Linked DNA regions of Homo sapiens: all the other regions are linked to region 1. The links come from fine-mapping of genetic effects on gene expression. A gene starts in region 1. Each other region holds a variant in brackets. All regions are shown on one strand. Distances are from middle to middle.

What was found.
Region 2: its variant is fine-mapped to the expression of EHD3 in esophagus mucosa (GTEx, PIP above 0.99).
Region 3: its variant is fine-mapped to the expression of EHD3 in whole blood (TOPMed, PIP above 0.99). The same link has a PIP of 0.9 or more in blood mononuclear cells.

What each region holds. Positions count from the first base shown.
Region 1 is chr2:31,230,599-31,238,933 of GRCh38, reverse strand. It overlaps EHD3 (EH domain containing 3), which reads right to left and starts at 4,782. Exons shown (of 6, transcript NM_014600.3): 1 at 4,086-4,782. The coding sequence starts at 4,312. It also overlaps a transcript of CAPN14 not described here.
Region 2 is chr2:31,309,815-31,318,149 of GRCh38, reverse strand. No RefSeq gene overlaps it. Among named protein-coding and RNA genes, the nearest start is that of EHD3, 80 kb to the right of the region's middle. The variant A/G (reference allele first, on the strand shown) is at 3,198.
Region 3 is chr2:31,251,767-31,260,101 of GRCh38, reverse strand. All of the region lies in intron 3 of EHD3 (EH domain containing 3), which reads right to left. It overlaps LOC124905983 (a long non-coding RNA gene), which reads left to right. Exons shown (of 4, transcript XR_007086270.1): 2 at 2,255-2,446. Among named protein-coding and RNA genes, the nearest start is that of EHD3, 22 kb to the right of the region's middle. RefSeq lists enhancers at 2,933-2,982, 3,068-3,895, 6,847-6,926, 7,207-7,256, 7,297-7,376. The variant C/T (reference allele first, on the strand shown) is at 5,130.

The DNA of each region.
Region 1 (8,335 bases):
GCCCAGCCTCCCCAAGGAGCCCGGGGCAGCTTAGCTCTGCAGCCCCAGGCCCCACAGCCAATCCACTAGAGCCTCTCTCTCAGCTCTGCCAAGGTCCAGGGAGGCCTCCCTCATGGCCCATGGAAGTACTCAGGCCTTCCTCAGCCCCTGGAGCAGCCAGCTACTCACCTCCACTACCTGCAGAATAAGGGGCCACAGAAGTAGGCAGCGAGAAGGAGTGACCAGGGGCCAGATGGTCCAAGGAAGGAGGGATTCAAGGCTGCATGCCGGGCAGAGAAATAGCAAAGGGAGAAGAATAGCAGAGGCAGGAGGAAAGGCTGCCAGGGCCAGAGGGACACAGAGCTACTGTACTCCAAAGAGGCAGCCTGTGTTGGAGAGGGCAGCCGCCAAGCCAATTTACTGTTCATTTTATTACTCTGTGTTGCCGGGCCTTAGGCCGGGGAAGTTATTTCAGGCAGAGATCACAGCACATTAACTAGTTATTAAAAGAATGTCCTTTTCTGTGTGTTCTTCCTCAGACAAGAAATAGACGCTGTGGCAAGCACATATTACTGAAAGTGGATGGACCCTCAGGGGCAAAACGCCAAGAACTGGGGGAATAAAGAGGCAAATCTTTGTTTCTGAGGAAAAGGCCCCTCACAGGTTCAGGCCTGGCATGGAGACAAGAATCAAGGCAAGAAGCAGGGATGGGAGAAGGGAGAGGAGGAGGCCTTCTGAGACCTAGGCATGGACGCACTTATCCACCCCAGAGCAGCCTTACTCGCAATGGGGAAGGGATGCAGTGTCAACTCACCCTCTCGGAAAACAACTGCAAAATATGACTCTTAGTACAAAAATTTTAAAGTTAAAAAATATTTTAAACAAAACCCTGCCCAACCTTTGGCCTAGCAATTCCACTTCTGGGAATCTCAAAAAAACAAAAACAAAAACAAACAAAAAAAACACACACACACAATATAGGAAAAAATATTATACACAGAGATATTCAGAATTATTCTACAATAACAAAAAATTAGAAATAGCCTAAAACATCCAAGAGAAGTAGATTAAGTGAAGAATCGTATATACACACAATGGAATAGTATGCAGCTGTTAAAAACAATGCTATTCATTAGTTGAATGAATAATTGTATATACAAATAGTGAAATAGTATGCAGTTGTTAAAAATAATGCTGACAAATAACGCTTATAACATAGGAAATGTTCATGCTATAAGTAAGAAAAACTGGCCAGACGCAGTGGTTCACGTCTGTAATCCCCAGCACTTTGGGAGGCTGAGGTGGGTGGATCCCCTGAGGTCAGGAGTTCAAGACCAGTCTGCCTAACATGGCAAAACCCCATCTCTACTTAAAATACAAAAATTGGCCAGGCGTGTTGGCGGGTGCCCGTAACCCCAGCTACTTGGGAGGCTGAGGCAGGAGAACTGCTTGAACACAGGAGGCGGAGGTTGCACTGAGCCGAGATTGTGCCATTGTACTCCAGCCTGGGTGACACAGTGAGACTCCATCTCAAAAACAAAAACAAAAATAAACAAGCCAGCATACAAAATTATATGTATAGCATGATCTCAACTGTGCTATAAAATAGCTACAAATACTGGAAATATATTTATATATAAATTATATGCTTTATATATAAATATATTTTATATGTAAATTAAAATAGCTTCTCCTAAGTCATGGGATTATGGGTGACTTTTTTTCTTCTTTAAATTTATTCTTTTCTATATTTTCCAATTAAAAACAACTGTTTACTGGATTTTATGAGAAAGAAGAAAAGTACATGATTTGGTTCTGGAGGGTTCCCTGTGGTATGACCCCTCCTACAGCGCTGGCTGACACTCCCTCAAGGGGAGACAGCTTTTGACGCATGAGCTAAATTCAGTTGCTGACATGAGTGGGGAGAGGGAACTACTGCACATGGAGGATAAGAAAGAAGAGCGATCTGCCTCTCCCGGTCTTACTGTCTCCCTCAGATGAGGAATCATCTGTGGCAATTTGACTCTGCCACTTTCTTAGACCCAGTTAACAGCCAGTGATGACTTAGGCAAAGCCGGGAGAGTGTCTCAGACAAAAGGCGCTCAAACCTGTCTGCTGCTTGGGGATCCTCACCTCTCCCCATCTTCCCTCCCATTCTGCAAAATGTCTACTGGGAACCTCCTATAGCCGAGACCCTGGGCAAGGCCCCAGAGATGCTAAGGCATGGATGTTGTCTTGTCAATGATTGTACACCAGGAAGGAGAAGCTACAGATAATGTATGAAAGGTTATAAATACCATATGTGTAGAGAGCCAGGGAAGGCTGAGAGGGCAAGGGCCATCTGCAAATGGCCTGAACTTCCCCTGAGGCATGAATGGGCCAAGTGGAGGCCAGGGCTCACAAAGGAAACTCTGCAGGCAACCCAGGCAGCTCTGAAGTGCCTTTGGCAGCAATGGGTGCTTAATAAAACAAGAAGCATGGCTTAGATCAGGGGTTCCCACCCTAAAGTCCAAAGAAGGCCCTTGGACCCCCAACATTATATGCAAATTTGGGATGTACGTACATTTTTCTAAAGATAGAAAGTTAAGAAGCAATGGATTAGTTTAATCTCTAAGGCCTCTTGCAGTTCTATCAATATAAAACATACAAGAGCCAACAGGCCCATCACCTCCCAAACTCCTTCAGAAATCACTTGGCCTCTTAAAGCTGCTGAGCCCTAGGCTGTGCACTCCACAAGGACAAACTCAATGTGGTGTTGTGTTTAGACATGACCTATTAGCATGGTGCTACTTCCAGAAGGCTGGCGTTACAAGGTGGATGTTAGAGAAAATTAGTACCTAGAAAATTAGTAACTAGACTGTTAACTTTTCTGCACTCCTCACCAAACAAAGCACAGCATTTCACATGCTGTGGATGCTCAAACAGCCAAGGAATAGGAATAAGGGTACCCCTGCTTTCCAAACCCTCTGCAGGAGATGAGCACACTTGACTTTGGGGGGCCACCAAACTCCATTCTCAAGCTGTGGGAGCCTGAGTCTTAAGACAGAGGGCCACAGCATTCTCAACAATTTGGAATGGCTATAAAAGGGGCCAAGAAAATGGCTGGCCTTGAAGTTGGGAAGATTGAGGACTGGAGTGAAGCCTGTTCTCTAAAGATAAGAAGGGCCTCTGGTGGACTTCTCTGAATGCAGGGTGAACAAATTGACTTCTTGAGCCTCCCTCCAGCCCAAGGATTCTGTAATTGAAGGGAATGGATGACTCATTCTCAGAGTTACAGGCGTTTAGCCAAGCATCTCCTCACATGCATCTAGGACTTAACATCCCAGGTCTGCTGCCCACTCTTTAGATGGCTCTGCACAATTCATTTAACTTCTCTGCGCCTCGGTTATCTCACCTGCAAACTCAGCAACTGGATGAGACAATGCCAATATCCCTTCCATCTCTAAGCGTCTTTAATATTATTATTAAGCCATTAAGATCAAATAAGAGAAAGGGGAAAAAAAAAGCATTCTGCTTCTGGACTCAGCTTCTGTTGAGTCTCCAAGATATATACACAGGAGCTCTGCTTTAGAGAAGGAAATGATAAAAGGAGGACAAGTAGCATCCCCAGGCCACCTCCGTTCCCAGGCCCGCACCCATCAGAACTCAGCTGCAACTGTGAGGCCCCCATGTGAGTGCCAAGCCCCTTGAAAAACAAGGGAAGAGGTTTTGCCCGTGAATGATGTGTTGCTAAAAAGTGAAGACGTAAGACATCCCCACCAACATAAGGCGCTCCAGAGACCAGGAGCTCTTCCATTGTGCCTCCTGGGCCTCGGTTTCATCATCCATAAGATGGGGAGACTGGGAATGGCTTTACACTTGAATACTTCAGGTTGACCACCACAGCCAAGGGCCAAGTAGAGTGGACAGGTATTGGGTAGGATGGGAAGGGGGACCAGCAAAAATTGTGGGGTAAGATTTTGACGCCTGCACAAACACAGATCTCTTCAGAGCCCTCAACTGAAGGCTTCCCATTGGTCCCCTGTCTGGGATGGAGCACCAGGAGTGACCGGAGGGACTAGGCGCTGGGCTCCGGGGTGGGCTGCCAGGACCCTGGGCCGGCTCACCTGATGAAGGTGGTCTTCCCAGTGGAGTACTGGCCCACCAGCAGAACCATGGGCTTGTTGTCGAAGTCGGCATCCTCCAGGGCGGGCGAGTGGAACTCGTGGAAGCGGTAATGCTCTTCCAAGGGCAGCAGCTTGCTCTTGTAGAGTTTCTTGAGCCCCTCACTCACCGTCTGGAAAACCTCGGGGTCCTTCCTCCGGCGGTCGTCCGTACCCAGCCAGCTGAACATCGCGGCCGCCGCTCGCCCCCGGCACGCAGCCCCAGGGGAAGACTCCTCCTCAGGGGAAGATGTCCCGTAGGACCGGTCCGCCGGGCTCCGAGCCGCGCCGCCGCCTCACCCAAGCGCGGGGCTCAGCCGCACCATGGCCCGGGCACGCGGCTAGGAGGGCCGGGAGCGCACTCTCCCTGCTCCTGGGACCAAGCCCAGCCGCTGCTGCATCCAGCAGCCCAGGCCGGAGGGAGGATAAATAATCTGGGCTTGAGGAGGAGGGGTGAAATCTTGGCAATTAAAGTTGAACCTGCAAGGAAACTGCCAGATGCCGGGGTCCCAAGCCGGGGTCCCCGATCGGCCCCCAGCCCTCGCCTGCTCTGCCCTGCGTGCAGCAAGGGATGCTTCGGCTCCGCTCCTGCCGGACCGAGGCGGCTCAGGGGAGACGGCGACGCTGCCCAGCCCGCGGACAGCTCTGCATCCGCAGCAGCATCCTGCAGCCCCAGGCGGTGGTTTAAATGCCAGCTGGGCAGGAAGCCGGCGCGCAGAGGAAGTCCCCTAGTACTGGCAAGGCAGGGCCGGCCCCACGGTTGCGGCGACGGGAAGCCGCGCAGGGCGCCGCCATGTTTGTGGGCAGGCGCTCAGCTCTAGACCTGCGGCCGCGCGGGGAGAGGGATGCTGACCCAGTCCAGTGGGAGAGTGCCGGTGTCTCAGTCTCCGCCTCTGGGGCTTCGATTTGGGAACAGCGCCCTCTCAGGGACGGCTGCGAGGACAGAGTTGACCTATTCATCACACTCCCTGCTTTGAATCGCCTCTCCTTCAGTTGCTGAGGTCAATTCCCTAGGAAAACAGGTACTCTAGTATTGGGGGATTTTTTTTTTTTTTGGCATAGAAAGGGGATCCACTATCAGGTTACACAAAATAACCAAAACTGTCACTACCCAAACTTTTAGCTAGGCTTAGGGTGAAGTCAAAATCGTTCCCATTTACTTATTCATTCATTCCAGCAAAACAAAACAAGCCAAGAAGCAAAATCCCTGCAAGTATTGGGAATTTATTATGGGGCAGTTACAATTTTGGTGACTGTGGATACAGAGATGAGTGCTGAACAGACTCTCCCTTCCAGGAACTCCAGTGAAGGCAGGCTTTAAAGAGGAGGCATGAGCAGAGGGTCATGGGAATACAGGGAGGAGTCACTCCTTTTGTGTGGCTAATTTGAGGAAGGCTTCATGGAAAGCATGACTGTAAGCTGGATCCTAAATGATGAATTGACATCCATTGTTCTAGGAGCGTAAGGAGTATTTGCAAAGGCTTGAGGAACTTGGTGTGTCCAAGGCAGAGTAAACAGTTTGGCATAGCTGGAGTGTAGGGTTTAGGAAGGTGAAAGAGAGTGAGGGAGGCCAAGCATGAAAGGCTTTGCCAGAGATGGGGAACCAATAGCAATGCTATTACTAATCATTGTTACATTAACAAAATGCTCAGCATGTGCAGGGGCCTGGGCTAAGTTCTCAGTGAACATTGCTTTATTTAACCTTCATGGCAGATCATATTATCTCCAGCATCATACTAAGGAGAGTGAGTGGGAACACTGTCCAGGTGTAGGCAAAAGCAGTGCATCGTGTGTAGAGAATTTAAACCCAATAATAAACTTGCTGAAAGTTGATGTGCTTTGTATTGGCACCATTCTAAACAGTGTAGTGATAAAACACTCCTCCCTGCCCAGGCTAATGACTCCCACTACCCTCCCTTCCACAGATGAAGAAGGAGTAGGCTATGGACCAGGCAGGAACTGGAATGCCAAGAGCAGTGTTGGAGGGGCAAAAGAGGTTGGGGGTTGATATGGTTTTGCTTTGTGTCCCCGCATAAATCTCATCTCTAATTGTAATCCCCATAATCCCCATGCGTTTAGGGAGAGAGCTGGTGGGAGGAGATTGGATCATAGGGACAGTTTCATTCATGCTGTTCTCATGATAGTGAGTGAGTTCTCGTGAGAGCTGATGGTTTTATAAGGGGCTCTTCCCACTTGGTTCCTCATACTTCTCTCTCCTGCCGCCTTATGAAGGACGTGTTTGCTTCCCTTTATGCCATGACTGTAAGTTTCCTGAGGCCTCTCTAGGCATGCAGAACTGTGAGTTAATTAAACCTTTTTCCTTTATAAATTACCCAGTCTTAGGTATTTCTTCACAGCAGTGTGAAAACAGACGAATACAGAGGCCAAGAGACCATTTAGGAAACTATTCCAAAACTTAGGAGACAGCTGCAATGGGATTGGAGAAGAGGTCAGACTCAAAAGATTTTTTTCATGGAATAGAATTGTCAGATCTTGGTATGTGATAAAAAAAAGAGGACATAAGGGTGAGGCACAGTCTAGGATGATTTTGAATTTTCTACCATAGGGGATAAGATCATTGGAGAAGCTCTTCCACTAATTAGGGGAGGCAGAGAGAGAGCTGATTTAGCAGACAGAGATAATGTGTTCAATCTAAAACGTGTTGCGTTTGAAGTGCCTGCAGGAGCTTCAAGAGGAGTGTGGTGAAGCTGCAGGGATTTCAGGGGAGGGGGGATTATCAGAGGCCAGTGCTGAATAGAATCTCCTTAGTTACATCTCAGATCTCCCGACTCCCTCCTTGAACCCCAAAACTGATCATCTCTTGTTGAGAATTCACTCAGATTAATATTTCACCCTTGGTGTTTAGCTACTACCAACATACGAACCTAAGGAGTAATATTAAAGATATTTAACAACTCACAAGGCATGAGAATCAAACACCCGGAACAGACACTGGCCTTCCTAGTGGAGCAAGGCTTGCGGCCCCGTGCCACGCCTGGTGTTAATACAGTGGCGTCTGGACCTTGGAGAGATCTGAGCCTGTCCCCGGAGAGAGGTCAGTATGGCCAGCGTGACAGGAAAGAAATCAAGGGGCCCCATTATGGAAGTATTTCAAGAATTTTGTAATCAGTACGGCCATGCCATTGTCTACTGCTGAATGTCTGTTCCGAATATCTAATTTACCAAGTGCGTGTTGACACATCTACTCCCGTCTCAGTCTTGAGTAGTTGAAATCTATCTGTTTAAAAAAGGAACTAATGGAGCATTTCTATAGACTAGCAATAAAAGGTCATGAAAGATAATATTCAAAAAAGATACTGTGTTCAAAAGAACAAAAACTTACGGATAAATCTGACAAAAGATATGCAAGATCTTTATGTGAAAAATAATAAAACTTTATAGAAAGATGTTAAAGAAGTTCTAAGTAAATGGGAGAGACATGCCATGTTCCATTGTGGAAGGATTCCTTGTCACAAACATGTGAATTCTTTACAACATGATTGATAAATTCAATAATTGAGAGATATGATTGAAATCAAAATCTAAATAAGGTTTTCCATGGAAATTGACAAGGTGATTCTAAAATGTATAACTTATAGAGCAATAGTAAAAAAAAGCTTAGATATTCCAGGAGAAGAAAGAAGATAAGAAGAATAAGGAGGAGGAGAGGGAGAGGTGGAAGGGGAAGGAGGGCAGAAAAAGGAGAACAGAGAAGAGAAGAGGACAACAGTAACATAGCAATGGCAACAACTAAGCGAAGAGGACTTGCCCTAGTGGACATTGTTATGGAGTTACAGTGGTTAATATGGTTTTGGCACAGAGACCAACAGAATAACAACACAGTAAATAGCCAGGAAATTTGGAAGCCTGACATATACAGAAGTTGCAATAGAGATTGCATATATATCACCACAAAGTCAGGAAGAGTTCTTTAAACAAGACGTCAGAAGCACAAACTGAAAAATGAAAAAAACTAAGTTTAGCACTAGCAAAATTTAAAACTTTCGTTCAACTAAAAATACAAAAGTGAGTGAAAAGATATTTCCTATACACAAAAACCCATGAAAGCACATCCAGAATATAGAACTAATGGCTGTGCATCGATAACAAAGACAAACATTCCAATAGAAAAAAACTTGGCAAGAGCTACAAAAATGTCTTTTACAAGAGGCTACATGAATGCCCTATAAACGCAAGAAAACATGTTGCATCTC
Region 2 (8,335 bases), 79 kb before region 1:
TGCAGGATGGCTTGCTGCTGCAGGTAACTCTGGGCAGAAGAGTGGGTTGGCACCCCCTTTAAGCCTGACAAAATTCCTCATGTGAGTTTATGAGTTCCAAATAATAGTAATAAACTCAATAACTCACTAGGTAGGTGTTTGGTAAATGATCTTTTGATGTAAAAATGAAATTGTATAAACATTAAAGGAGGATCAGTGAGTGGCTTATCGGAACCATCCTCCCAGTATTCCCCGGGGTTAAATGTTATACCCTGAGAAGGCTTGACAAGAGCTCTGAATCATCTGAGCTGGTTATTGAAAATGCAGGTTCAGGGCCCCCCTTGCAGAGATTCTGGTTAAATAAATCTAGAGTGAGACCCAAGAATCTGAATTTTAAACAAGCCCTGGAGGTGATTCTGATGCATGTGGTCTGCAGATACAAATTGATGGAAAATGCCCAAAGAGAATGGGGCCCCTCTCTGCCAGGTGTTAAGAGCACCTGCTATTCTGAGCAAATGCTATTCTGAGAGCATTTGCAGGCTGGAGTCTGCCTTTATGAGCTCTGGGTGGGAAGGTAGTTCAGGCTGGTTTATACAGCCACATACAGGGAAGACAGTGAAGAATGCCCAAACATAGGGGGTGCTCTATGCTGGAGAAATGTTTAGTTTAATCCTTGAGTTGCGACAGGTTGGCAGGAACTAAAGATCTCTTAGAGAGGGATGGGCCTGAGGCATGAGAGACGCAGAGGCCAGGTCCAGAGATGCAGCGTGGAAGGGAGGGGACCATGGAGAAGGATAGAAGGACATAGCAGAGGGGATAAAGAGAAAAAAACGCATGTACACATGACACCTATTATAATTATATGTTGAGGGCTTTGCCTGTGTCAGCCCATTCACTCCTCAGCACAGCAGTCTAAGATGGCAATAACATTCGTTTTTTACATGAGGAGACAGTGGCTCCCAAAGGTTAGAATAAGAATGGAAGTCAGAGTTTTATTTCAGGACCATGTGGTTCCTAAGCTCTCACTCTTGATTTTGTGTTTCTTTAGGCAAGTAAATGATGTTTAGCCACTATACCCATCTATATACGTATTCATTATTTCATTCATTCACTCAACATGAATGAGCTCCTGCTAAGTGCCAGGCACTGAGACAGGGGCTGAGGATTGACAGGTGGACAAAAGAGACACTGCCTTAGATCTTAATAGGAAACATGAATATTAAACAGTCAGACACGTAACTATAATTTTGCAAAGAGTTGGAAGAACTGAAAAGGAAAATTGCAGGTTCTGTGAGAAATAAAGCGGGGACCCTTAATTTAGAGTGGAGGGTCAGAAAAGGCCTCTATGGAATGTTGGACTTGAAGGATGGGTAGGAATTAGCTAAGCTCAAGTGTGGGGAAAAATGTCCCAGAACTGTGCTGTCCAAAAGAACTGTTGTGCTGTCCAATATGGTAACCATCAGCCACATGTGACTAGCAAGCACTTAAAACGTGTCTAGTGTGACTGAGAAATAAATCTTAAGTTTTGTTTAATTTTAATTAATGAAAAAATACATATTTCTTAAAAACCACATGTGGCTAGTGGCATCTGTATTGGACAGCACAGCTCTAGAACAAATGGGAAGTTTAAGCAAAGGACCTGAACTGAAAAAGGGTTTGATGGCTTCCAGAAGCCTAATTTGTGGTGGGTACAGTGGGGAGACTGAGACAGCATGAGGCCTGAAGGGAACAGGGCTCAGAGTGTGCAGACACTTGAAGGAACAGGGCTCAGACTGTGCAGACACTCAAGGGAGCAGGGCTCAGAGCATGCAGGCACTTGCAGGCCTCATGAGGGGTTTTCAATTTTACTGCAGTGGGGAAGTTGTTGAAGGATTTTGAGGAGAAGAGTAACTTGGTCAATTTTTGTTTTAAGATCACTTTTCACTGTAGCAAACGGATCAGAGGGAGCTAAAGTTAGAGAAAGGAAACCAAGGAGTAAATATTGTCATTTCCTAAGAAAGAGATGTTGGTGGCTCAGCTTAAGGTGGATACTGTGGAAATGAAGAGACATGGGTGGATGTGGTATAATTTCTAGATAGAATGGATGGAACACACAGTTTTAAACATACAGAATCCAGTAGCCTAGGCCTGTGTTGTCTAATATGGTAGCCGTTAGCCCCTTGTGGCTCCTTAAATTTAAATTAATTAAAATTAAATGAAATAAGTCTTTCTGCACTGTACCATTCACATTTCAAGTGCTCAAAGGCAACACGTGACCAGTGGCTGCCATTATTGTACAGGGTAGCCTTTAGTGAACATTCCTGTCATTGTAGAAACCTCTACTGGGTAGTGCTAAAGTCACTTGGAGAAATGTTTAAAAATGGATCTAGAAGAGGTCATCAGGTCCAACACCCTCACCGTGGAGGTGACATGCTGGGGGACACTCAGCTGATTCCTGGGTGTTGCTGGAGTGGTGCCTAAACCAGGCTCTCGGGTGGCAACCTTTTCCACCCAAAGCATCAGAAGCATCATGGGCAGAATTGCCTGCTTCCCCAAGGGCTTTGTATCCTGAGAGAAAGGCCCTGCTCCAAGAGCACAGGGCAAAGCAGTTCTCACTCCTCCCCAGGCTTTTATCCAAGAGAGGGGAATGGGAGCAGAGGGGAAGGGCACATGGGTGGAGTAATGAGACCCACTTGTCAGAAGGCTAAACTAAAGCGTTACCAGCGGTGTTTGTCTAAGGAAAGGCTTCTGAAAGGCTCAGGCCTGATTTTGACTCAAACCATTTAATAATTCTATGGCAGCCTGAAAAAGAAAGGCTGAGATAGAAACAACAGAAATACAACCACCATTATTGTTTCCAGCTAACATGGCCTATCACTGGAGGCTCAGAGAACGTGTCTTTAGTTACTTCTGCAGAAAATAATGCATTGCTTTCTGAAAGCCACACACCACCCAGGCCACTCAGTCCATCCCCTCACTCAAGAAACACCACAGAAATGGATTCCAGAGAAATCCGATCAGCATACCCTTGCCACACAAGGCAGGACCCCAAGTGACCCTTGTTGTCTCCAGAAAGCATAAGGAAGAAGAAGAAAAAAAAATCCAAGGTACCAAATCCTCCTGGTGACCTAGTAATCTGGGAACAATTAAGCGAGTTCACAGGAAGTAAGTAAAGCGAGGAAAAAACTTTGTTTTCATCACCTCTGAGTTTCTAGTTAGGGACAGGGCTTGGCTCAGAT[A/G]AGTCAAAAGGAGGGGAGTGGGGAGCTGCTGGAGGAGCAGGCTTGGGGAGGAGAGGAATGCACAGTGGGAGGATACCTTGGTTTGCTAAAGCTGGGACACACTTCACTGTGGGACCATGGGTTGATCTCCACCTCCCCTACCCTGGCAGCTCAGGACTGCAGGACTCAGGGTCACAGGCCCTAGGAGATGACCAGATCCCACCTCAATGGCAGCAGTGGTGCCCTGACTGTCTTCTAGTATTTCTTGTTGCCCTGTGCCCTCTTGGAGTATGGACAGATGACGCATGACTATGCCACCTCCATGTGTCATATCCCTCGGTCAATACTTGAATTTCCATCTCTCACATTTGTATTGTCATTACTCTTGAATAGGATAACAAGGATGGGCTACCATTAGTTGAGTATTGCCTATGTGCTGGGTGCATTGCTAAGGGCTTCATGTGCATTATCTCAATTAAACTTCACAATCACCCTATGGGACTATTGTTATCTCCACTTTACCAGTGAAGAAAATGAGGCTCAGAAAAGTGAATATGATATAGCAATCATTCTCCTGGGTATTTGCCCAATTGAGTTGAAGACTTAGATCCACAAAAAAACCTGCACATGGATGTTTACAGCAGTTTTATTTGTAATTGCCAAAACTTGGAAGCAACCAAGATTTCCTTCAGTAGGCGAATGGATAAATAAACTGGTACATCCAGAGAATGGAGTATTATTCATTACTAAAAGAAAATGAGCTATCAAACCATGAAAAGGCATGGAGGAAGCTTAAATGCATGTCACTAAGTGAAACAGCCAATCTGAAAAGGCTACATATTGTGTAATTCCAACTACATGGCATTATGAAAAAGGCAAAACTATGGAGACAGTAGAAGCATCAGTGGTTATCAGGGGTCTGGGGGCAACAAAGGATGAACAGGTGAAGAACAGAGGATTTTTAGGGCAGTGGAACTACTCAGCATGATGTTGTAATGGTGGATGCATGTCATTATACATTCGTCCAGACCCTTAGAATGTACACCAAGAGTGAACACTAATGCAAAGTATGAACTTTGGGTGATAATGATGGGTCTGTGTAGGTTCATCAATTGTAACTAATGTACCGCTTCAGCATGGGATGTTGACAGTGGAGGAAGCTGGGGTTGGGGGTGATATATGGGAAATCTCTGTACTTCCAACTCAATTTTTTTGGGAACCTAATACTGCTCTAAAAATTAAAGTCTAGCCGGGCACAGTGGCTCATGCCTGTAACCCCAGCACTTTGGGAGGCTGAGGCGGGAGGATTGCTTGAGCCCAGGAGTTTGAGACTGGCCTGGGCAACATAGCAAGACCCTGTCTCTACAAAACTGAAAGATTAGCTGGGCATAGTGGCATGTGCCTGTGTTCCCAGCTACTCAGGAGGCTGAGGTAGGAGGACTACTTGAGCCCAGGAGGTCAAGGCTGCAGTGAGTCATGTTTATGCCACTGCACTCCAGCGTAGGTGATAGAAGGAGACCCTGCCTGAAAAACAAAAAGTCTATATTAAAAATAAAAGCATCAGCATCTGTTCAAGGTCCCCGCACTAGTGACCAGTGTAGCTGGAACCCAAGTGCCGGGCTCTTCAACTTCAGATACTACGTTCTCCACCTTTATGGTGTCCCATATCACTGCAGGCTTTCATACCTCACAAATACTTTTGTTTTTAATTAACCACTTTAGTTCACAGTGATCCTATGATGTCAGCATTAATTCTATTTTCCAGATAAGGAAATAGGCTCAGAGAAGTTAACTAATTCACTCACGTCATGTACTGGGTGGGTAAGTAGCTGAGTCAGAGCTTGAATCTGGGCTGAACTACTCAAATCTCTGTGCTCTTCTCAAATAACACACATCATCCAGACACTCATCTGATTAAGCAGACACACAGTGCTGTCTGAGCTGATTACTGCACCTGCAGTAATCGCCAGGGATAGCGATATGACTCTATCAATATGACCTATCCATATGACTTCTGCTAGACCTTAAGTCATTCCACCAGCTGCTGGCAGTAGTTGGAGCCTATGTAGATGTGGGCCACATCACCACCAAAGCAAGGTGCATGAAAAATGCTTTGTCAGTGGTTCACACCTAGAAAACAGGGGTGTGTGACTAGTGGAGAGAGAAGGAAAGAGGGTGGTAACTGGGTTAGTGTGCTGAAAAACCGATATCCAAGCCCAGCACCTCACTTCTCACCAGAGAAGGCTCAGCTCTTCTACCCACTGAGCCTTCGGATGTGGGGCCATGGGTAGCCAGACCTCCTGGTTATAGGGGAAAGCTTACAGCAGCAATGGTCATGGAGAAGGCCCTTTGGAAACACTGAAGAACATTTAAAACTCCCTTCTCTCGGCTGGGCATGGTGGCTCACGCCTGTAATCCCAGCACTTTGGGAGGCCGAGGCAGGCAGATCACACGGTCAAGAGATCGAGACCATCCTGGCCAACATGGTGAAACCCCATCTCTACTAAAAATACAAAAATGAACTGGGCATGGTGGCACGTGCCTGTAGTCCCAGCTACTCAGGAGGCTGAGGCAGGAGAATCGCTTGAACCTGGGAGGTGGAGGTTGCAGTGAGCTGAGATAGTGCCACTACACTCCAGCCTGGAGAGAGAGCGAGACTCCATCTCAAAAAACAAACAAACAAACACAACAACAACAACAACAACAACAAGAACAAAACTCCCTTCTGTCTCTGTCCTTTCTCTAAAGGCAGTTTGACAATGTCCTTCTTTCCCTCGTAAGTGGAGAACTTGCCTGATTTTAATCCTGGGCACATGCTGGTCTCCTCTCTCCTTCTGGCCCTCTTTCTTCCCCTTGCTTCTAGGCCACATGCCTTTCCTTATTCTCTCCTAGGAAGGGAGGAGATGGAGGGAGCTGCCCATGTTTTCCTTGAGTTTTGGCAAGAGTGTAGGGTTTTAAACCTCAGTGTTAACTAACCACTCCAGAATACTGCAGGAATAAACCAGGAAAGCCAAGAGAACCCACAGACCCTCTGAAGGAAGTGGATTGCCCCTGCAAAACCCGGGAGACAGCCCAAATACTGTGAGTGCCTAAGCTGTGGAGGTGGGAAAGGGGGATCGTCTGCCCCCAAACACATACCCTCACTGGGGAACCTGAGGGTCTAAATTATGGGAGAAGATTCTGACCTTACCTGGAGCTAAGTCAATTTAGAAAGCTGAGCAAAATACAGTGGTAGAGGAAGCAGTGGCAAAAACCCTGTGGGCTCTGAGTCTCCTGGGAAGCTATTTCAGACTTGTCTGACAGGGGTCCTTGGGGAGGGGAGGAACTAAGAAAAGACCACAGGGAGAAGGAAATCTCCAGCTGAACTTTGTAAAAATTCCAACCAAACGCAAAGTTTCCTGGCCAGAACTCAGGGGAGGGCATGAATCTGTTGTGCAGAATCCACAGGTGGGGAAGCACAAAAGCCCTACTTGCTTTTGCAGCTGGGAGGCTTGTAGCCTGGGGCAAGTTCTCAGCCCTGTTCACCTGCTGGCTGGAAACAGACTGTTGCTGTTGATGGGGCTGGGTGGGACACAGTGGGAGTGAGACCCACTTTTTGGGTCATGTGGAAGCTGGTTGAAGAGTGTGACTTCTGGATTTCTCCCACTTCCTTGACCACCTGCATGACATAGCAGAGGCAGCCATAATCCTCCTAGGAACATAACTCCAATGACCTGGGAACCACAGCCCCAACCCCCACAGCAGCTGCAGCAAGACCCACCCAAGGCTCAGACACGTCGAGCCCCACCCCCACCTGATGGTCCTTCCCTATCCACCCTGGTAGCTGAAGACAAAAGGCATATACTCTTGGGTGTTATAGGACCCCCAACCCACCGCCTGATCCTCCCTATACTACCACAGCTGATGCTCTCTTGAAAGCACCACCCCCTGGCAGGAGGCCAACCAGCACAAAAACAGTGCATTAAACAACCCAAACTACGGACCCTCTCAGAGTCCAATTCACCCCCTGCCACCTCCACTGGAGCAGGTGTTGGTACCCACAGCTGAGAGACCGAAAGACAGTTCACATCACAGGACTCAGTGCAGACAACCTGTAGTACCAGCCTGAAGCCTGGTAGACTTGCTGGGTGGATAGATCCAGAAGAGAGATAACAATCGCTACAGCTCGGCTCCCAGAAAGCCACATCCCTAGGAAAAGGGGGAGAGTACTACATCAAGGGAACACCCTGTGGGACAAAATAATCTGAACAGCAGCCTTGAGCCCTAAATCTTCCCTCTGACATAGCATACCAAATGAGAAGGAACCAGAAAAACAATTCTGGTAATATGACAAAACAAGGTTCTTTAACAGCCACCCCCCAACCCCTGCCAAAATCACACTAGCTCACCAGCAATAGATCCAAACCAAGAAAAAATCCCTGATTTACCTGAAAGAGAATTTAGAAGTTCAGTCTTAAGCTAATCAAAAATGCACCAGAGAAAGCTGAAGTCCAATTTAAGGAAATAAAAAAAAATGATACAAGAAATAAGGGGAGAAATCTTCAGTGAAATAACTAGCATAAATAAAAAACAATCACAACTTCAGGAAATAAAGGACGCACTTAGTGAAATGCAAAATGTCCTGAAAAGCCTCAGCAATGGAATCAAACAAGAAGAAAGAACTTCAGAGCTTGAAGACAATGTTTTCAAATTAACCCAATCCAACACAGACAAAGAAAAAAGAATAAGAAAAAATGAACAAACCCTCTAAGAAGTTTGGGATTATGTTAAGCAACCAAACCTAGGAATAACTGAGATTCCTGAGGAAGAAGAGAAATCTAAAAGTTTGGAAAACATATTTGGGGAAATAATTGAGAAAAATTTATTTGGCCTTGCTAGAGACCTAGACATCCAAATACAAGAAGCTCATATAACACCTGGGAAATTCATTACAACAAGATTATCACCTAGGGACATGGTCATCACGTTACCTAAAGTCAAGACAAAGGGAAAGAATCTTAGAAGCTGTGAGGCAAAAGCACCAGGTAACCTATACAGGAAAACCTGTCAGATCAACAGCAGATTTCTCACTAGAAACCCTACAAGCTAGAAGGTATTGGGGCCCTATCTTCAGCCTCGTTAAACGAAACAATTAGCAGCCAAGAATTGTGTATCCAGCA
Region 3 (8,335 bases), 21 kb before region 1:
AGCCTCCCGAGTAGCTGGGATTACAGGCATGCGCCACCATGCCCGTCTAATTTTTGTGTTTTTAGTAGAGACAGGTTTAACCATGTTAGCCAGGCTGAGTCTTGAACTCCTGACCTCAGGTGATGCGCCTGCCTTGGCCTCCCAAAGTGCTGGGATTATAGGTGTGAGCCACCGCCCCCAGCCAGCCACTGCGCCTGGCCTAGTAACTCTTATTAACGTCATTATTTCCATACCAGCTCCCCTATCCGTGCTTACTGTATTTAGCAGCCCGCTGGAAAAGAAAGTCTGGACACCTAATCTGACACAAAGACCCAGAAATTCTTTCTAAGGTCTGAAAACAATGAAACACTAAAAAGTAGATACTGATGATGGTTCAGACCATGCCTGTCACTGGTCTGGAAGAAATCTGCAATTCTTGTTATAAAAACATCTTGTTCTCACTCAGGCTCTTTCCTTTGTAATCAGCTGCAGCACAAAATTCCCAACTCTTGAAACCACAAGGGGTTTCTTCCTTAGGATGTGACTGGAACTCTGGCCACCCGCATCTTGGTTATCTAGCACTAAGCTGCTTTAGGTCAGACTGGTTACAGGAGCCCCAGAGAAGTTGTTCTGCTCAATCCCAAGTAGCTGTGGATCCAGTAGGAGCTGAAGTAGGAGGGTGGACCAATAGTCTATACATTCACTGACACCCAGAGCCCCAGTAGGTCTTACCTCTGTGTCTCAGGCTCCTCTTACATAAAATAGGAAGACAAGAGATAAGGAAGTGGGGCTCAGAGAAGTCAAGTGATTTGTCGAAGGGCACACAGCCCATGAGCAGCAGCAGTCGCATGAAGATGGAGGTGTTAGGCTTTCCCATTCTGAGTCTGAGCAGGGTTCTCAGCCTCTCCTCCTGCCACTCCCCCGTGGCATACCTCTGGCACCAAGGTAGGAGCCCTTTCTTGGGTACTAAAGTGACCAACCATCCTGGCTCCCCATAGCACAAGGGTTCCAAGGTGACACACACTGGGGACCCAAAGCTCATTGCCACCATCGAATGGGAAACCAAATCATTAGGAAAAAGCCTGCCCTGCCTCACAGAGGGAGGCTAGAGACCAGGCAAGATCATCAGGCAACTGCCTTGTGAGTGAGTCAGACTTAAGAAGCTCTGACTGTCTTTAACAGGGGTCCTGACTTAGCCTCCATCAGAATCCCCCCAGGGCTTCTTAAAACCCAGATGGTTGGACTCTATCCCCAAAGTTTCTGATTCAGTAGGTCTGGCGCAGAGCATTTCTAACAAGCTCCCAGGAGATTCTGATGCTGTTGGTCCAAGGGCCACACTTTGAATACCACTGGCCCATAAAAATAACAATAGCATTCAAAAGGTGTTCAGCACTGACCTAAGTACTTTATAATCATTCATTCCTTTAATCCTCACGATGACTCTGTGTAGGGTCATTAGACACTAATATCAGCCCCACTTCTCTGAGGAGTAACCAGAGATACAAACAGATAAAGGAACTTGTCTAAGGTCACCCAGCTGGTAAGCAATGGGCTGGGACTCAAGTCCAGGAAGGTAGCCCTGGAGTCAGTGCTATGAACCACTGCACCGAGTTGGCTTTCACTTTCAAAGGCTGTCATTTCAGACTAAGTAGCAGGCATCGATGGGGTGGGGGATGAGGATGAATGGAGCCAACGGAGCTAGGTTTAAAAAGCCTTTCCCCCACCCTGTGGCATCTAGTGAACACCCAGTGGGGTACATATTTAGGACGTGTGGAGGCACTGCCACAGGGGGTAGGGGGATGGGATCAGACGGTCGGGAAAACTTGCTGCCCTAAAGCTTCCTGGAGGACCCCTGTAATGTTTCCCTGGTGGCTGTAAGAGAATTCTAACAAACAAAGGAAGGTCAAACCCTCCTTTGGTTACCCGGATGCCAGTACTACTCCATTTTCAGCTCCTCTGTCTTTGGTAAATGAAGTGCTTCCAAGCATTCCCATTGCCATGTGATTTTCTCCAAGATCTGTCAGCTGCTCAATGAATATACAGCTCAACTAACACCTGAGCCTTCTCCCCCTGCTCCTGTGGCGTAGACCTATGAGGCTACGAGGAGCTTAGCCATCAATGGTCCAACTTCCTGATTTACAGATAGGGAAACTGAGGCTCAGGAAGGGGCAGAGCTGGCCCAGTATCTCCAGGTGCCATCCTGAGGATAGTTCCTGATGGGTGCGTCATCGAGGGCCTGGTGTGAACTAGATTTTGCCTTCTCTTTTGAACACAGGTGTCCTGTCTCGGCTCAGAGACAAGGCCCAGGAAAGTGCTTCAGAGGCTGCTCTGCCCAGTGGGCAGGGGCATCATCAACCCTCCCTCGGAGATGTTCACGCAAACTCTAGGAGTTAAGTGACTCAGCCAATACCACCCATGAGACACGACCCCTAGCCTCCAACTCGAAGTTCAGTGCTTGCTGCAGACGGTAAGATGTTCATGTCATTATCTCATGTCACCCTCACGACACGCTCTGAGGCAGGCAGCGCGAGGAGTATCGTTCTCACTTCCAGGGGAGGAAACTGAGGTTCAGAGAGGAGAGAGTCAAACAGTTGGCAAGTCGTGAGGCCAGATGACCCAGCTGTCAGCCATCCAGCCGTTCTGCACCTGGCCGCTCCCTGCCTCCCTCCCTCCCTCCCTGGCACGCAGGCACAGCCAGCTCCTCACTGGAGCCCGGGAAGCCTAAGCATTCCCACTTCAGGTGAAGCCTGCAGCCCGCACTACTCCCCTCCTTCCTACATCCCTCTGTCCATCCTTCCCTTCCCAGGGATGGCTCCAGCCTATTTTTATCTTCCCTTCAGCACAGCGCATGGCAAGGCTGCTGTCACCTCCCAAAGGCAGTCCCTCAGAGCTGTGGGTAGGGAGGGGCCAGAGGGCTAAGAAAATCCCCAACCCCCACCTCTGCAAACAGCTCACAGCAGGAGGGCAGTAGGGACCCTCCACAACTCCCTGCCAGGCCTCTGGCCTTCTGCTGCTCCTTATTCCCCAATCTGGATTTTAGCTGTGCCAGTGCAGGCCACAGGAGGGGCTGCTGGGAGGACCAAGACTGGGCTGCAGCTCCCTCTCACCTGTCCAGCAAATCTCAGCCCCAATATATTGGCTCAATGGCTCAGAACAGGCTAAGGCAGCCAGGGCAGCCAGTGTTGAGTCCTATGCTGACAAGGTAATGGAGGTTTATAGAGGGTGAGAGAAAGGCCCAAGGCCATGCAATGCTGGGGGTCAGAGCCAAGACCTGAACTCCAAACTCAACTCTTGCACTGTAGCCACGCCTCCACCAGGCTGGGGAAAACAAAGACACCAGAGAAGCTGCAGAGAAGGGAAGAGGCTCTGTCCCTGCAACTTGCTGCAATCCCTGATGACACCAGCGATGTAAGAGAAGGCTGTGTCTGCAAAGGCTGAGGGGCAGCAATATGTCCATGCTGCCAGAACAGGATAGACCCCTGCCTATCCCTGTCCCTGCCCTCAGTGGTCTTGTAGCATCATGCACGCTCCTGTTCTGCTCTTCAGCTCACTGAAATCATCCTCGGTGCACTGGGAGCTGGACAGGGCAGGGGCAGCACCTCACCCTTCTGGGCTTCCCCTGCACCCAGCACGGTGTGTGGCACACAGCAGGTGCACTATCAGTATTTGCTGAACGGAAGTGAAACGTGGAAAACGTGGAAACCTGTTCCACGTTTGGCATCTGGGAGACAGTAAATGAGTAATCTCTGGGCCTCAGTTTTATGGTTGAGGAATCAGTGACTCAGTCGTAGGGTTATTGTGAGGATCTAAACAAATCAGAGGATGCAGGTGAAACTGCTGAGCTGTGACCTTGGCTGTTCTCATTGCCCTGCTGTTTTTTGTAAAGCACTCCTTTTAAGCCCTAGTTTCTATGAGATGGGATGTGCTCTGTAGGAGTCACCAGAGGAGCACTGGCCTGGGTGAGTCCACCTCTCGTTTCCGCTTAGCCACTAACTTACTGTGTGTCCTTGGGCAAGAATCTCCCCTCTCTAGTCCTCTGTCTCTTTGCCTGTCAAATCAGGGGATTGAGCTGGACAACCTCCGAGCTTCCTTTCTCGGTTCACAATTCTCTGCATCTGAGACCAGAGGTGTGAGGGTGGGGAGTACAACAGGATGGATGGAGATTAGCTACAAGGGACCCTTTGCAGGCACAGCAAGAGAGAGAGGCTGCAGGCTGCTGTCTTACAGGCCTCGGGGATGCCTGTGTGAAGTCTGCCTCTGCCTGAGGACAGGCCAAGGGCTTCTGGGAACTCTTTCCGTGATTTTATAAGCAGAGGCCTCCTATTTGCTCTGGAAAGCTGCTATCCAATTACAGACTCAGTAATGCCAGAAGCTTCCAGCCAGGTGTGGCTGTGAAGACCATGACCATCAAGCAATGACTCCATGGGTTGCTCTGAAGCTCGACTTCCCTGCTCCTGGCTAACCCCGAGGCTGTGTCATCTGTAGGGTGGATATTTAGTTGTTCACTTGGCCTGGACTTAGGTGCAGATCTAGGAATGGCGGTATCTCAAAGGTATGGACTGGACCCAGTAAGAAAAAGGGTATGGTATAGGATTAGCTTTCTCATTTATTTGGCAAATCTGAACCTCAATTTTCTCAGCTGCAAAATAGGGATAACAAATGACTGAATGAGGGGTCTGTGGTAGAGCTGAATGAGGACTCTGTGGTAGAGCTGTGGCAACAAGATCTGACAGCACAGACTGCCTCAGCAGCTGCGGTGAGTGCTATGGCCAGTGACAGGCCCCCTTCCCCTCTCTGGTCCCAGCGATGGCTCTGAGACCCACAACGGTAGCTCTTGGGCACCTGCGGCAGCCCAAGTGTTCATGAAATATGGACTAGTGAGTCGGGGGAGATTCAAGCCCCAAGAGACAGAGCAGAGAAGCTGCCCTTCCTGGACTTCATAGCACAAGTCTGCTGGCTCTAAGAGGTCTAGTCAGCCAGCTCCGGGCCTGGAGACTGGGCAGCCTGCAGGGATCTATGGTCCCCTCCAACCGGAGGCTCCAGATGACTGGAAAGAAAGCACTTTGAAGTAATGCCAGGCAAGAGGAAATCAATCAGACAAACACAGTAAGGAAAGCCACCCCTTCCTCACCCGCCGGCTTCCATCATGG[C/T]CTGGCATGCAGTGCCTGGGCCCTCACAGGGCAGCATACTTCTTCGGGTTTCCAGCCACGTGACCTCATTCGCTCTTCATAATTCTCTGTATCCCAGGAGGTAAGTAGGGCATACACATCTTACAGGACAGGGAATCTGGACACAAAGAGATTAAGGGGCTTGCCCAAGCTCACACAGCCAGGTGGTGGCAAACTCAGGCCTGGAACCCAGCTCCTTGACTTGCAGCCCACATTCTCTTTCTATAACAGCTCACAGCCATGTGAGCCTGAAGCTCAGAGGCTGAGCCCTCAAACCAGGCACTTACTTGCGGTGGGTACATACAAAACCCCATCCCTCCCCAAAAAAATCTCCGTCAAGATTTAAAGGCATTTGAGCAAAAGAGGAATAACAAGGCATCAATTTCCAAAATGTGGGAAGAGTTTGGCTGACAACGGGGAAGAAATGCCACATTAGATGCTTCCCAGAAGTAACGGCAAAGAGCGGCCCGAGCAGATGGTTGGCAAGGCCTTTTGAAGGGCGTCAGGACTCGGCTGCTCTGCCCAGGCACAGGAGCGCCCACACAGGCGTGCCTGTACCGGCACGTAGTCTGGGAAGACCCAGAGGCCTTTAAGTGCAGGCTCTGCTCCAATGAGGGTGCCCTGGATGGGCTAGGAATGTGAGGCTGCAAGGATCAGCCCAGACCTGCCAAGGTCTGAGCCCTAAAGACCCCTAGAGGAAACCTGGAGATGAGAGGTTTGCCCTCATTCCTACCCCCTGTGCTCTTCCGGGGCAGGTGATGATAATGTGCTGAGAAGCCGTGGACCAGGAATAGGAAGACCCGAGTTCCCTAGATGTGTGATCCGGGCAAATTTTCAACCTGCTCTGGCCTTACTGAGCTCACCTGTGCAGAAAGGGGCCTGTGGGGAGGAGCTTCAAGCTGTGCAGTCTGTGATGTGAGCACAAAGCCCCGCCCTGCTTTCCTAAGGTGGCGCCTATGGGGATTTCTAGCTGGGAAGCAGCCAGGAAATGTGGTTCCTAAGCTCAGGACACTCAGCCTTCTGGAGCCCTCCCACTCCTGCTGCATCCTCACTTCTTCCCAGTAATGAGCCAGGCTGGGGCACATCCTGCCACTTCCAGGAACCACCTCCCTGTCTTCCTCCCCTGCCCACCCCAATGCATCTGCATCCAGAGACAAGTGCTGGCCCAGGACCTCCCAGAATCAGCTTCCCGGGCACCCCAGCCTTCTTCCCACAAGACACACCCCGCCCCAGGCCCAGTAGAGGGTCCACACCCTGAGCAAGGACGACCCTTTGCCGCCCTAGTCCAGCCTGGGGCCCGAGTGCTCCTTCCTGTGAAGCCTGAGGTCTTGGAGCCCTGGGAAGCAGCTCACTTTGCAGAACAGGCAGTCTAATATGGCCAGTAGGGGCCTCTGTGCCGACTTGATAACCATGCCCCTTTTTATCTGGTGAGACACAGCCCTGCGCCAGGTATGAGGCTCAGTGAGCAGAAGGTGGGCTGAGTTTCAGGTTCTAGATGCCCTCGTGTAGGACATAGTTGGCAGGACTATCCCAGGGAGGAAGGGTGTCCGGTCCTTGCCTGGGCTGGCTGGAGTAAGGCGAGAAGCACCCAGTCTGCTCTGTGGCCAAACCCAGAGCTCTTGGAGCCCTAGGCAAGAAGCCATGAGAAAGCAAGTTTTGTTCTATGCACACATTTGTGTGTGTGTGTGTGTGTGTGTGTGTGTGTGTGGGAGGGGGTTGCTGTGGGGAAGAGGGGAGTTGTGTATATGCAGGATATGTGTGAGGAGTGTGTATGCATGTGTGGGTGTGGGAGTGGGTGTGTGCGTAAAAGGAGGTATGGGTGGGGGAGGGTGGGGGAGGTGTGCGTCAGTTTAAACTGGAGCTATGTGTTCTAAGGCCAATTGTGAGAAAGAAAGGGGTTGGGCTCTGCACCCTGGAAACTTTACTCGTTTGGGGTACCACAGATAACTGAGGGTGTCTGACGCCCTTCCCCCAACTGTCCTGGTCTCCTCAGGGTGCTGAGGTCAGCACCGCCCCAGGCGCCAGCAGCCCAGTTCTAGCTCTTGTTTTTAACGCAGGCTGCTTTTGCCAGCAGCTGCATTTACAGTCTGGACTCAGGAAAGCAGAAAACAAACTGGCCTGCAAAGCCACTCCTGGGGCCATCATTTCTCCCAGAGGTAGGGGGACCTGGTGCTTAGTCAATGTGGGATGGGAGGCATTAGGAAGTGCAGGCAAGAACACCAAGGGCCTAATTTGCTTAAGGCAGTCACTGGGGTCCAAAGACAAAGGCAGGAGAGAGGTAGTGAAACCCCGTCTCTACTAAAAATACAAAAATTAGCTGGGTGTGGTGGCGCATGCCTGTCGTCCCAGCTACTCAGGAGGCTGAGGCAGGAGAATCGCTTGAACTCAGGAGGCAGAGGTTGCAGTGAGCCGAGATTACGCCATTGCAGTCCAGCTTGGTGACAGAGCGAGACTCCGTCTCAAAACAACAACAACAGCAACAACAACAACAACAACAAAAACAGAAATAGGAAAAGAATAGAATAGGATAGGAACTGAGGAAGGCAGGAGTCCCTGGGAACCAGCCTGCCACATACAGGTGCACAGGCTGTGCACTGCACAACTACAAGGGAAACTATTCACACAGATTACTCTGGGATTGTATGATAGGTGGTGCCAACTGACAGGGAGGGAGGGAGGAAGGTAGCTCATGGTGATCCAGACCCAGGGCTATGGCCCGTGTTTTCATATGGTCTATAGACCTCACAAGACGGCTGTGTGGTACATATCATTACCCCTTGTTACACATGGGGACACTGAAAATGTGACCTGTTGAGACACACACAGGTTCTAAAGCCCAGAACTCTGAATTCCTAGTACAGTGTCCTTGGAAACCGCAGAGGCTGGAGTCCTCTCTGGACCCGCTGGTCAGGCTACACTGGCCTTGCAGGTGCACATGTGACGTCCCCCAGGGAGTTCACACTGGGAAGGGGTGGCTTTCCCCAGCCTTCCTGGAGGAGTCCTGAGCTGCCTGAGTGAAACAGCAAATCCCCTTCAGGCTTAAACGCAGGGTAAACCCCAGATGAACCACTTGGGGTTGGGAATAGGTGGGTTAGGAGAAAGGGGGTGCTCCGGCAAACAAACCAAAGCAAGACAGAAAAACCACCCGTGCTGTCCCTCCACAGGGCCCTTAACAGGGAGCCAGGTGC